3 linked regions of the Homo sapiens genome follow. The protein of the gene in region 1 purifies or fractionates together with the protein of each later gene. This does not show direct contact. Each region holds a gene or a part of one and is shown in the gene's direction. Other genes may lie near its edges. The genes, in order: ARL6, BBS4 and AMPD2.

Region 1 (3,142 bases):
TAAATAAGACATATCCTTATCTTCAGAGAACTTAAAATTTAATGAGGGATAATTTGAGAACCTTTCCATGGATAGTATCTAATTTTATTTCATTGGCTGAATGAAAATATTGCATCTTCAGATTAAGAGGTATAAAGTAAATTAATATTTGACTGTTCAGTAATCATTACTGACATCTTGTTTTTCACTTTTAAATGCCTCCAATTTACCATAGCACTTTGTTAAAATAAATTGTGACTTTTAACTTTTTCATGAACATAACTGCTACATAAATGTTCTTTAGAATTTTAGACATATCTCAGGCACACAAATTATTAGTTCTCACAAATTAGAGAACACTTATAATTGTGAACTCTAAATAGAAACCTTCATTTTAATCACTGAGCAACAGTATATAGAGCAATATTGTTGATCCTGATAAACACTGCATATAAAGAAAAACTGTAATATACAATATATACCATCTCAAGTATGCTTAGCTTTGAAAATGATGAAAATAGAAGGCAAAAGTAAGTGAGTAATAAAGATGTTATAGTAACTGCAGTAGTGGTACATGTTTCACAAAGATTTTAATAAAAGCACATAAAGCTACAATAAAAGTTCTATATTCCAGTTTCTTATAGTCCAGAAATAGCAGTGATTTGGCATTTGGCAAATTGAAAGTTACCCAGAAAATTCCAATGGCTCAGCATCTTAGCTAGTTTACCATCTCTCTTGTAAATTGTTTTAGAGGATACAAAATGAAAATCTCATTAATCTAAAGTTGCTGCAGATATAGGAAGGACATAAGGATGGAAACAATGAATGTAATTTTTTAAAAAACTGATATGCTACAACTATTTTAGGATGGAGAAAGAATTGATTGAGAATTCAAATCCTCACTCACTTACCATAAGGTAGTAATAAAATTAATAATAGTTACTACTATATGATCATTATATTATAAGCAGGTATTACACATACAGAATTTTCAACATTTAATCCTCCCAATAAGCCTATGTGGCAGGTTTTATTATTTCCATTTTATAGATCAGTAAACTGAGGCGTTAAAATGTTATGTAATTTGCCAAAGTTCAAAAAGCTGGTAAGTCTGGTACTAGGATTCAGTACCAAGCAGTCTGTTTTAAGACAGATGATTCAAGAGTATGATAGATATTAGAAATACAGATATATCTGCCAGAATAACAATTAAAATGATAGAAAAGGCTCTTACTTGGGACAGCAACCAGGACAGGGATGGTAGAGGGAAGGTCAGAGACTAGAGACTACTCTTTGCTTTTTTTGTTTTCTTTTTTTTTCTTTTAAAGCTATTAACACTACTCAAATTTTAAACTCTGGATACAAATGACTTTGATAAAAGTCCTTAAAACTATTTTGACATTAAATTATTTGGTATTCCACAAACTACAGTAGCTCATACCTATGCAAATATTTAGAAGAAGGAGAAGTACCCTTTTTCTTTGTTTTCATGATCTCCAAAATCTAGTTTTTAGTCTATAAACATCCATCCCTACTCCACATTTTCATGTAAAGATTATGTAGAAGTTGGGCAACAGTGTAGTCACAGGATGTCATATAAGTGTGAATAAGCTGAGATTATTGCATTTGTATTTAGCATATTATACAATTAAAATGTATTTTATTAAACCTGAAGCAAGTTTTCTTTCATGTCTAGACATCAGTGTGTTACAGAGTTTAATTCATTAAGCTCTGTATTTGAATATAACACCTTGTAAAAATGTTTGAAACTTATCCTCTTGTATGTTAAATATTTAAATATTTGTATATGGCCCTATTCAGCCTGTGCTTTATAAATCACAAAAGAGCTGGGTTTTATATGTTTGTTTTTTATTTCTAAGCTCTCTGCGAAAAAGTTACAAATTGTCTCCTTAAGATATTTTTTCTTTGTAATTTTTTTATATCATGTTGTGATTTCCATAAATATGTGCAGTTACTCTTGATAATACTTGTCTTATTCATTTCAGGTTGCTATAACAAAGTACCATAGACTGGGTGGCTTATAAACGACAGAAATTTATTTCTTACAGCTCTGGAGCTGGAAGTCTGAGATCAGATTACCAGCATGGTTGGGTTCTGGTGAGAGCCGTCTTGGTTGCAGACTGCCATCTTCTTGTATCCTCACATGGCCAAAAGAGGACAAGAGAACTCTCTGGAGTCTGTTTGATAAGAGCATGAATCCCATTACATCTTCACATGGCTCCTCCCAAAGACCCCACCTCCTAATATCATCACATGTCATCACATAGGGGGTTAGAATTTCAACATAGAAATTTTGGGAGAACACAAACATTCAGTCAGTTGCAATACTTAAGGCAAATTCATCTTGCTTATAACTCTGGTGCATGTGCATTAAAATACTATTGCATTGTAACTGAGTTTGTACCTATTTTCTGCTTTCTGATTATTTCCTTTGTTCATGAAAATAAATGACTGGTATTACAAGGTCACCTAAATAAATAGGTTTGTGTACGTCTGCGACTAGAGAGAAATACTACAGTGATTAAGAAATGGTTATTGTGTTTAATTGAATGTTTCAGGTTACTTAGTTATTACATTTTCATCTTTCTCCGTATGGATGCTCCTGCTCAGCTTCGCCTGCCTCAGAACCTTTATGGCTCTTTCTTCCAATCACTTGATTTCAATGCCAGATTTAGAAGCTTCATCGGCATACCATGTTAAACTGCTTTTCTGGCAATTTAGAATAAACCAAGAAAGATAAAATCTGTCTCCAAATTTCAAATCACCAAGTAATGCTAAAAGTCACCCAGGAATACTAGATATTTTGAAAATAAAATTTGATTAGAAATATAGTAGTAATGATAAACATAGCTTTTACAATGTGCCCATACTTTGTAAGCACTTTACATATATTCATTTAATTGTCATAAGAACCCTGTGAGGTATTATCTCTATTATATAGATCAAGTGTCAGTAAACTGCTAACTCATTTTTGTACTGCCTTTAATGTTTATTTTACTTTTTTTAAATTATTATACTTTTAAGTTCTAGGGTACATGTGCACAACGTGCAGGTTTGTTACATATGTATACATGCGCCACGTTGGTGTGCTGCACCCATTAACTCATCATTTACATTACGTATATCTCCTAAAGCTATCCCT
Region 2 (3,656 bases), on another chromosome or scaffold:
GCAAACAACTCTCTTGGACATGTTGGTCTTCTGGTGGAGGCAGATGTTCAACTCAGCATATTAACTTTTTTATCTTTGGATAGATGAAAAATGGTATTTTGTCGAGTTTTTTTTTTTTTTTTTTTTTTTTTGAGATGGAGTCTCACTGTCACCTAGGCTGGAGTGCAGTGGCATGATCTTGGCTCATTGCAGCCTTTGTCTCCCAGGTTCAAGCAATTCTTCTGCCTCAGCCTCCCCAGTAGATGGGACTACAGATGAGTGTCACCATGCCCAGCTAATTTTTTGTATTTTTAGTAGAGATGGGGTTTCACCATATTGGCCAGGCTGGTCTCGAACTCCTGACCTTGTGATCTGCCCGCCTTGGCCTCCCAAAGTGCTGGGATTACAGGCGTGAGCCACCGTGCCCAGCCCTGAGTTTTATTTTTTAATTTCTCTCTTACTGCAAGGTTGATCATCATGTGTATATTTAAAAACCATTTGTATTTCCCTTTCTCTGTATCTTTGGTGACATACCATATGTGTTACAAACTTGCAGGCAGACAGTGGTAGTACTAACATGCAGAATGTATCCTTGGTGTCATCTTTTTTGGTATCCAGAGCTTTGTGACCCATCTAAGGTTTTTAATTTATACCCATGGCATTTATACCTATGGCAATGCACAGAACTAATTCATACTGGTATGACAAAGATTCATACCAGTTTTTTTTTTTCTTTTTTTAAGTGGAGTTTTGCTCTTATTGCCCAGGCTAGAGTGCAGTGGCGCAATCTCGGCTCACTGCAACCCCCGCTTTCCAGTTTCAAGCAATTCTCCTGCCTCAGCCTCCCAAGTCGCTGGGATTACAGGTGCCCGCCACCATGCCCAGCTAATTTTTTTTTTTTTTTTTGTATTTCTAGTAGAGGTGGAGTTTCACCATGTTGGTCAGGCTGGTCTCAAACTGCTGACCTCGTAATCCACCTGCCTCAGCCTCCCAAAGTGCTGGGATTACAGGCGTGAGCCACCGCACCCGGCCCATACCAGTTTTTTTTGACACCGCTGATCCGAAGGCAGATACCAGTATGAATCTTTTTTTTTTTGAGATGGAGTTTTGCTCTTGTCGCCAAGGGTGGAGTGCAATGGCGTGACCTCGGCTCACCACAACCTCCGCCTCCTGGGTTCAAGCGATTGTCCTGCCTCAGCCTCCTGAGTAGCTGGGATTACAGGCATGTGCCACCACGCCTGGCTAATTTTTTGTGTTTTTAGTAGAGATGGGGTTTTTCCATGTTGGTCAGGCTGGTCTCAAACTCCCGACCTCAGGTGATCTGCCCGCTTCGGCCACCCAAAGTGCTGGGATTACATGCGTGAGCCACCGCGCCTGGCCACCAGTATGAATCTTGAAAGGTTCTCTTTCTTTTTCATCTGTGATAATACTTGGAAATCTTATCACACTTTTCTTAGCTTGCCTAGTTAGATTTTAGACAGGGGTTGGCAAACTTTTTCTGTAATGGGCCAACAATATTTTAGGGTTTGTAGGCCACATACAGTCTCTACATCATATTTGTTATCTTATTTTTTATAACCCTTTAGAAATAAAAAAACCACTGTTAGCTTGAGAGCTGTACAAAAATATACAGGGCCTGTAAGCCCTGTAGTTTGCAAATCCCTGTTCTAGAAGAAGTAATCACAACAAGGGAGTTGAAATTTTAAGAAACTGAATGAACTAATACTTTACTAGGCATTATTAATACTCTAGGTTTTTTTACATATGATTCTTGTCCACGTCTGCTTTTTCATTACTATTTGTTTTCTTTTTTTTTTCAGACAGAGTCTCACTCTGTTGCCCAGGCTGGAGTGCAGTGGCGCTATCTTGGCTCACTGCAACCTCCGCCTCCTGGGTTCAAGCGATTCTCCTTCCTCAGCCTCCTGAGTAGCTGGGATTACAGACACGCACCACTACTGCCCGGCTAATTTTTGTATTTTTAGTAGAGATGGGGTTTCACCATATTGGTTAGGCTGATCTTGAACTCCTGACCTCATAATCTGCCTGCCTTGGTCTCCCAAAGTTTTGGGATTACAAGCATGAGCCACCGCACCTGGCCTGTCCATGTCCACTTTTTCTTAAAGACACCTGAAGAAACTTAACCACTGCTCAGAAGCATTTTTCTCCCTCTTTCAGGCTGTTATCAAAGAACAGCTTCAAGAGACTCAGGGATTGTGTGAATATGCTATCTATGTCCAAGGTAAGACACATACTTCTTGTCTTCTTGCTAGAGAAATACACTTTTCCTAGGTTCTTGAAAAAGATCAGGCAATTGAAGAAACAAGTTCAAGTACAGTCATGCACCACTTAACAATGGAGATATGTTCTAAGAAATGTGTTGTTAGGCAATTTTGTCATTGTGTGAACATTACATGGAGTGTACTTACACAAACATAGATGGATGATATAGTGTACTATACACATGATATAGTCTGTTGCTCCCAGGCTACAAACCTGTATGAGCAGGTGTTATACCGAATACTGTAGGCAGTTGTAAAACAGTGGTAAGTGTATCTAAACATAGAAAAGGTACTGTAAAAATATGGTATAAAAGATAAAAAATAGTATACCTGTATAGAGTACTTACCATGGATGGACTGGAAGTTGCTCTGGGTGAGTTAGTGGTGAGTGAATGTGAAGGTCTAGGACATTATTGTATACTAATGTAGACTTTATGTTGTATACTAATGTAGACTTTATAAACACTGTACACTTAGCCTACACTAAATTTATTTAAAAATATTTTTTCTACAATGATAAATTAACTTTAGCTTACTATAACTTTTTACTTTATAAACTTTAAAACTTTTTGGCTCTTTTGGGGTAATACTTAAAACACACAACAACATTGTACATTTGTACAAAAATAGTTTCTTTAGGTCCTTATTCTATAAGCTTTTTTCTTTTTCTTTCTTTTTTTTTTTTGGTAGAGAGACAGAGTCTCACTTTGTTGCCCAGGCTGGTCTTGAACTCCTGGGCTCAAGCAGTTCTCCTGCCTCAGCCTCTCAAAGTGCTGGGATTATAGGCATGAGCTACGACACCTGGCCCTTTATGCTATTCTTAAAACTTTTTATTTTTTTACTTTTAAACTTTTTTGTTAAAAACTACGATACACACACTACTACAGTGGTGGTACTAACATGTGGAATGTGTCCTTGCTGTCTTTTTTGGCATTCAGAGCTTTGTGACCCATCTAAGGTCTTTGTGACACACACACACACACACACACACACACACACACACGCACACGCACGCACGCACTGGTCTAGGCCTACACTGAGTCAAGATTATAAATATCACTGTCTTCCACCTCCTTATGGAAGGTCTTCAGTGGCAATAACATACATGGAGCTGTCATCTCCTATAACAATAGGAATACCTTCTGGAATACCTCCTGAAGGATCTGCCTGAGGCAGTTATTCTTTTTTTTAGTAAGTGGAAGGAGTACACTCTAAAATAAAGATTAAAATGTATAGCGTAGTAAATACATAAACCAGTAATGTAGTCATTTATTATCAAGTATTAAGTTCTATATATATGTAATTGTATATGCTGTACTTCTATGTGACTGGCAGCACAGTAGGTTTGTTTATACCAGCATCACTACAGATAGGTAAGTAATGCATTGCACTGTTTTG
Region 3 (3,656 bases), on another chromosome or scaffold:
TCGGGCCAAGCAAGATTTCCTGAAGACGGACAGTGACTCGGACCTACAGTGAGGAGGGCAGAGGGGCACAGGGGATGCGGAGCTGCAGCCTGCCCTTCTGCCGGCTCTAAACCCCTCCCTTGAATGCACCCCCTGCAGGCTCTACAAGGAACAGGGTGAGGGGCAGGGTGACCGGAGCCTGCGGGAGCGTGATGTGCTGGAACGGGAGTTTCAGCGGGTCACCATCTCTGGGGAGGAGAAGTGTGGGGTAAGTATGGGGTGTATGTTGGGTGAGTCGCCATCACCTATGTCTTAGTGGGTTCCCCCAGCCTGGAGAGCTGGGGGTGGGGGCTGGAAAGGGCGTTTCTCTTTCCAGCAGCTGGAGGGGCGGAGGGGCAGAGGGGCTGCCTAGGAGCCACTTGATGTGCTGGACCAGGGTGATCTGAGTGTTCCTGGGGGTCAGGGCCTGTGGGAGGTGGGGATAGTTTGGGTTCTAAGATAAGGCCTTAGGGAGGAGGTCTCTGAGTCCAAGACTGAGGAGAGTGATCGCATATCCTCATCTCCAGGTGCCGTTCACAGACCTGCTGGATGCAGCCAAGAGTGTGGTGCGGGCGCTCTTCATCCGGGAGAAGTACATGGCCCTGTCCCTGCAGAGCTTCTGCCCCACCACCCGCCGCTACCTGCAGCAGCTGGCTGAAAAGCCTCTGGAGACCCGGACCTATGAACAGGGCCCCGACACCCCTGTGTCTGCTGGTGGGACTCCCCATCTCTGCCCCATGCCATGTGCCCTAGCCTCCTGGGCTTCTCAGCCTGGTGCCTGGGCACCTCTGCCCTGCCTGCCTCTCCCTACAACCCAGGCTCATTCCAACCTCTTGGGGTACAGGGGTGGAGGTTGGGCAGGAGCTGTCTGACCTACTGGGTCTTCAACATCTCTTGCCCTCTGTGGGGCCTTTGGGTTGGGCAGTGGGTGGCTTGGAAGAGCCCTGCTCTGACTTTACCCTCCTCACCCCTGCAGATGCCCCGGTGCACCCCCCTGCGCTGGAGCAGCACCCGTATGAGCACTGTGAGCCAAGCACCATGCCTGGGGACCTGGGCTTGGGTCTGCGCATGGTGCGGGGTGTGGTGCACGTCTACACCCGCAGGGAACCCGACGAGCAGTAAGAGGGGTGTGGTGCATGTTGGGGGGATGCAGCGTGGGAGGTTGCGTTGGCTTGGGAGAGGCCACAGGGCTCGGCTTGCTCTCCTCACCCAAGCTCCCCTCCATGCCAGTTGCTCAGAGGTGGAGCTGCCATACCCTGACCTGCAGGAATTTGTGGCTGACGTCAATGTGCTGATGGCCCTGATTATCAATGGCCCCATGTGAGTCCCCTGCCATCCCAGACACTTAGCTCCCCTCCCAGCCCAGATTCTCCAGCCCCAGTTCTGCCCCAGACTCCCATCACCTGGTGTCTTGCCCTTCCTAGTTGCTGAGCCCTCGACTTCCCCGCAGTCTACTTCCCTCTTGGCAGCCTCCATCCTTACCCTCCCACCTGCTCCCTCTGATCTGCTACCCAAGCCCTCCCCAGGTGCCTCCCTTCAGGGCCTAAGTCCCTGCCTTGTTCTCCTCATGCCCAGAAAGTCATTCTGCTACCGCCGGCTGCAGTACCTGAGCTCCAAGTTCCAGATGCATGTGCTACTCAATGAGATGAAGGAGCTGGCCGCCCAGAAGAAAGTGCCACACCGAGATTTCTACAACATCCGCAAGGTGGGCCCTCACCCCGTGGCCGTCTCCATGTCCTCATCCCACACCTCTGCCCAGCCTCCCCTTCAAGGGCCAGGCCCCCCACACAGCATCCAGTACAGAGGGTCCTTTCCCATTGCACTGCCCCAGGCCCCAGACCTTCCTGGCCTCTGGTGGATCAGCAGTGCCCTGTTCCATTCCAGGTGGACACCCACATCCATGCCTCGTCCTGCATGAACCAGAAGCATCTGCTGCGCTTCATCAAGCGGGCAATGAAGCGGCACCTGGAGGAGATCGTGCACGTGGAGCAGGGCCGTGAACAGACGCTGCGGGAGGTCTTTGAGAGCATGAATCTCACGGCCTACGACCTGAGTGTGGACACGCTGGATGTGCATGCGGTCTGTGCCAGTGGCGTGGGCTGTGGGACTGAGTCAGTCAGGGGACCAGGAGTCACGGGTGACCTGAGCCTTCCCATGTCCCCCAGGACAGGAACACTTTCCATCGCTTTGACAAGTTTAATGCCAAATACAACCCTATTGGGGAGTCCGTCCTCCGAGAGATCTTCATCAAGACGGACAACAGGGTATCTGGGAAGTACTTTGCTCACATCATCAAGGTAAGGAGGCAGCCTTCCCTGCCAAGCCTCGAGCCTGAGGATCTGGGGGCTTTTAGGGGGTGAGACTCAAGGAGGGTAGGCAGATGACCCCCTGAAGAGCTCTGACTCAGCTCACCTCATGTCTGACTCAGCTCACCTCATGTCTAGGAGGTGATGTCAGACCTGGAGGAGAGCAAATACCAGAATGCAGAGCTGCGGCTCTCCATTTACGGGCGCTCGAGGGATGAGTGGGACAAGCTGGCGCGCTGGGCCGTCATGCACCGCGTGCACTCCCCCAACGTGCGCTGGCTGGTGCAGGTGCCCCGCCTCTTGTGAGTGTCCCTGGAGTGGGAGGGGAACCTGCGGGGTCATATTCAAGGGGTCAGGGCCTGCCTCCTGCCCTCCTAGGATGGCTGAGCCTCCCTTGTCCCTGCCAACCCCTCTGAGTGCAAGGAAGGGCTTCCTGGTCCCATCCATGGTCTGTCCAGCCTGGCCCACCTGGGTATCCTTGCTTTCCCAATATGGTTCAGATGCGCCCCTGCGCTCTTGGGCCAAGCTCTGACCCTTGCTGGACCGCTGGGTTTCCTCCCACTGGCCCTGACTTGCACATACCTGCATGTTGTCTCACCTGCAGTGATGTGTACCGTACCAAGGGCCAGCTGGCCAACTTCCAGGAGATGCTGGAGAACATCTTCCTGCCACTGTTCGAGGCCACTGTGCACCCTGCCAGCCACCCGGAACTGCATCTCTTCTTAGAGCACGTGAGCAGGCAGCGCAGAGCTGGGTATGGGGAGGGCAGCCGGCTTCGCATCCAGCTGCAGCTCTGGTTCTGACCCCAGGGTTCTGTATTAGGTGGATGGTTTTGACAGCGTGGATGATGAGTCCAAGCCTGAAAACCATGTCTTCAACCTGGAGAGCCCCCTGCCTGAGGCGTGGGTGGAGGAGGACAACCCACCCTATGCCTACTACCTGTACTACACCTTTGCCAACATGGCCATGTTGAACCACCTGCGCAGGTGCCTGCACCACCCTGTGTCTGCTTGCTATGCCATCTCTCGCCCAACAAACCTCACTCTTGGCACCTTGGGCCAGGGCCACTAGACCTCTGACCCACCTGTTGCCTGGACTGGATGGGTTCTTTCTCTGCCCTTGGAGCTACATCTGTCACCCCTCACAGCCAGTAATCTACCCCTGTCCCCCTTATCCCAGGCCTGCATAGTTATTGGCTGGAGGACATATGCGTGCTGGGTGGGGGTCAGGGGCTCCGGTGAGCCCAGGTGATCCCAGGCTCAGGAGCTGACACTGTCTTCATGTCCCCCAGGCAGAGGGGCTTCCACACGTTTGTGCTGAGGCCACACTGTG

The links.
Region 2: the proteins of ARL6 (region 1) and BBS4 purify together in Homo sapiens (co-immunoprecipitation; one study listed by IntAct). This does not show direct contact.
Region 3: the proteins of ARL6 (region 1) and AMPD2 purify together in Homo sapiens (affinity purification with mass spectrometry; one large-scale study listed by BioGRID and IntAct). This does not show direct contact.

What each region holds. Positions count from the first base shown.
Region 1 is NC_000003.12:97,798,718-97,801,859, forward strand, and holds the end of ARL6 (ADP-ribosylation factor-like protein 6), read left to right. Parts: 3' UTR 1-2,512; downstream 2,513-3,142. UniProt on the Homo sapiens protein: Involved in membrane protein trafficking at the base of the ciliary organelle. Mediates recruitment onto plasma membrane of the BBSome complex which would constitute a coat complex required for sorting of specific membrane proteins to the primary cilia.
Region 2 is NC_000015.10:72,710,090-72,713,745, forward strand, and holds part of BBS4 (BBSome complex member BBS4), read left to right. Parts: intron 1-2,154; coding exon 2,155-2,218; intron 2,219-3,656.
Region 3 is NC_000001.11:109,626,181-109,629,836, forward strand, and holds part of AMPD2 (AMP deaminase 2), read left to right. Parts: coding exon 1-48; intron 49-138; coding exon 139-247; intron 248-545; coding exon 546-732; intron 733-994; coding exon 995-1,136; intron 1,137-1,248; coding exon 1,249-1,338; intron 1,339-1,593; coding exon 1,594-1,723; intron 1,724-1,902; coding exon 1,903-2,097; intron 2,098-2,183; coding exon 2,184-2,315; intron 2,316-2,462; coding exon 2,463-2,626; intron 2,627-2,928; coding exon 2,929-3,055; intron 3,056-3,146; coding exon 3,147-3,310; intron 3,311-3,615; coding exon 3,616-3,656. UniProt on the Homo sapiens protein: AMP deaminase plays a critical role in energy metabolism. Catalyzes the deamination of AMP to IMP and plays an important role in the purine nucleotide cycle.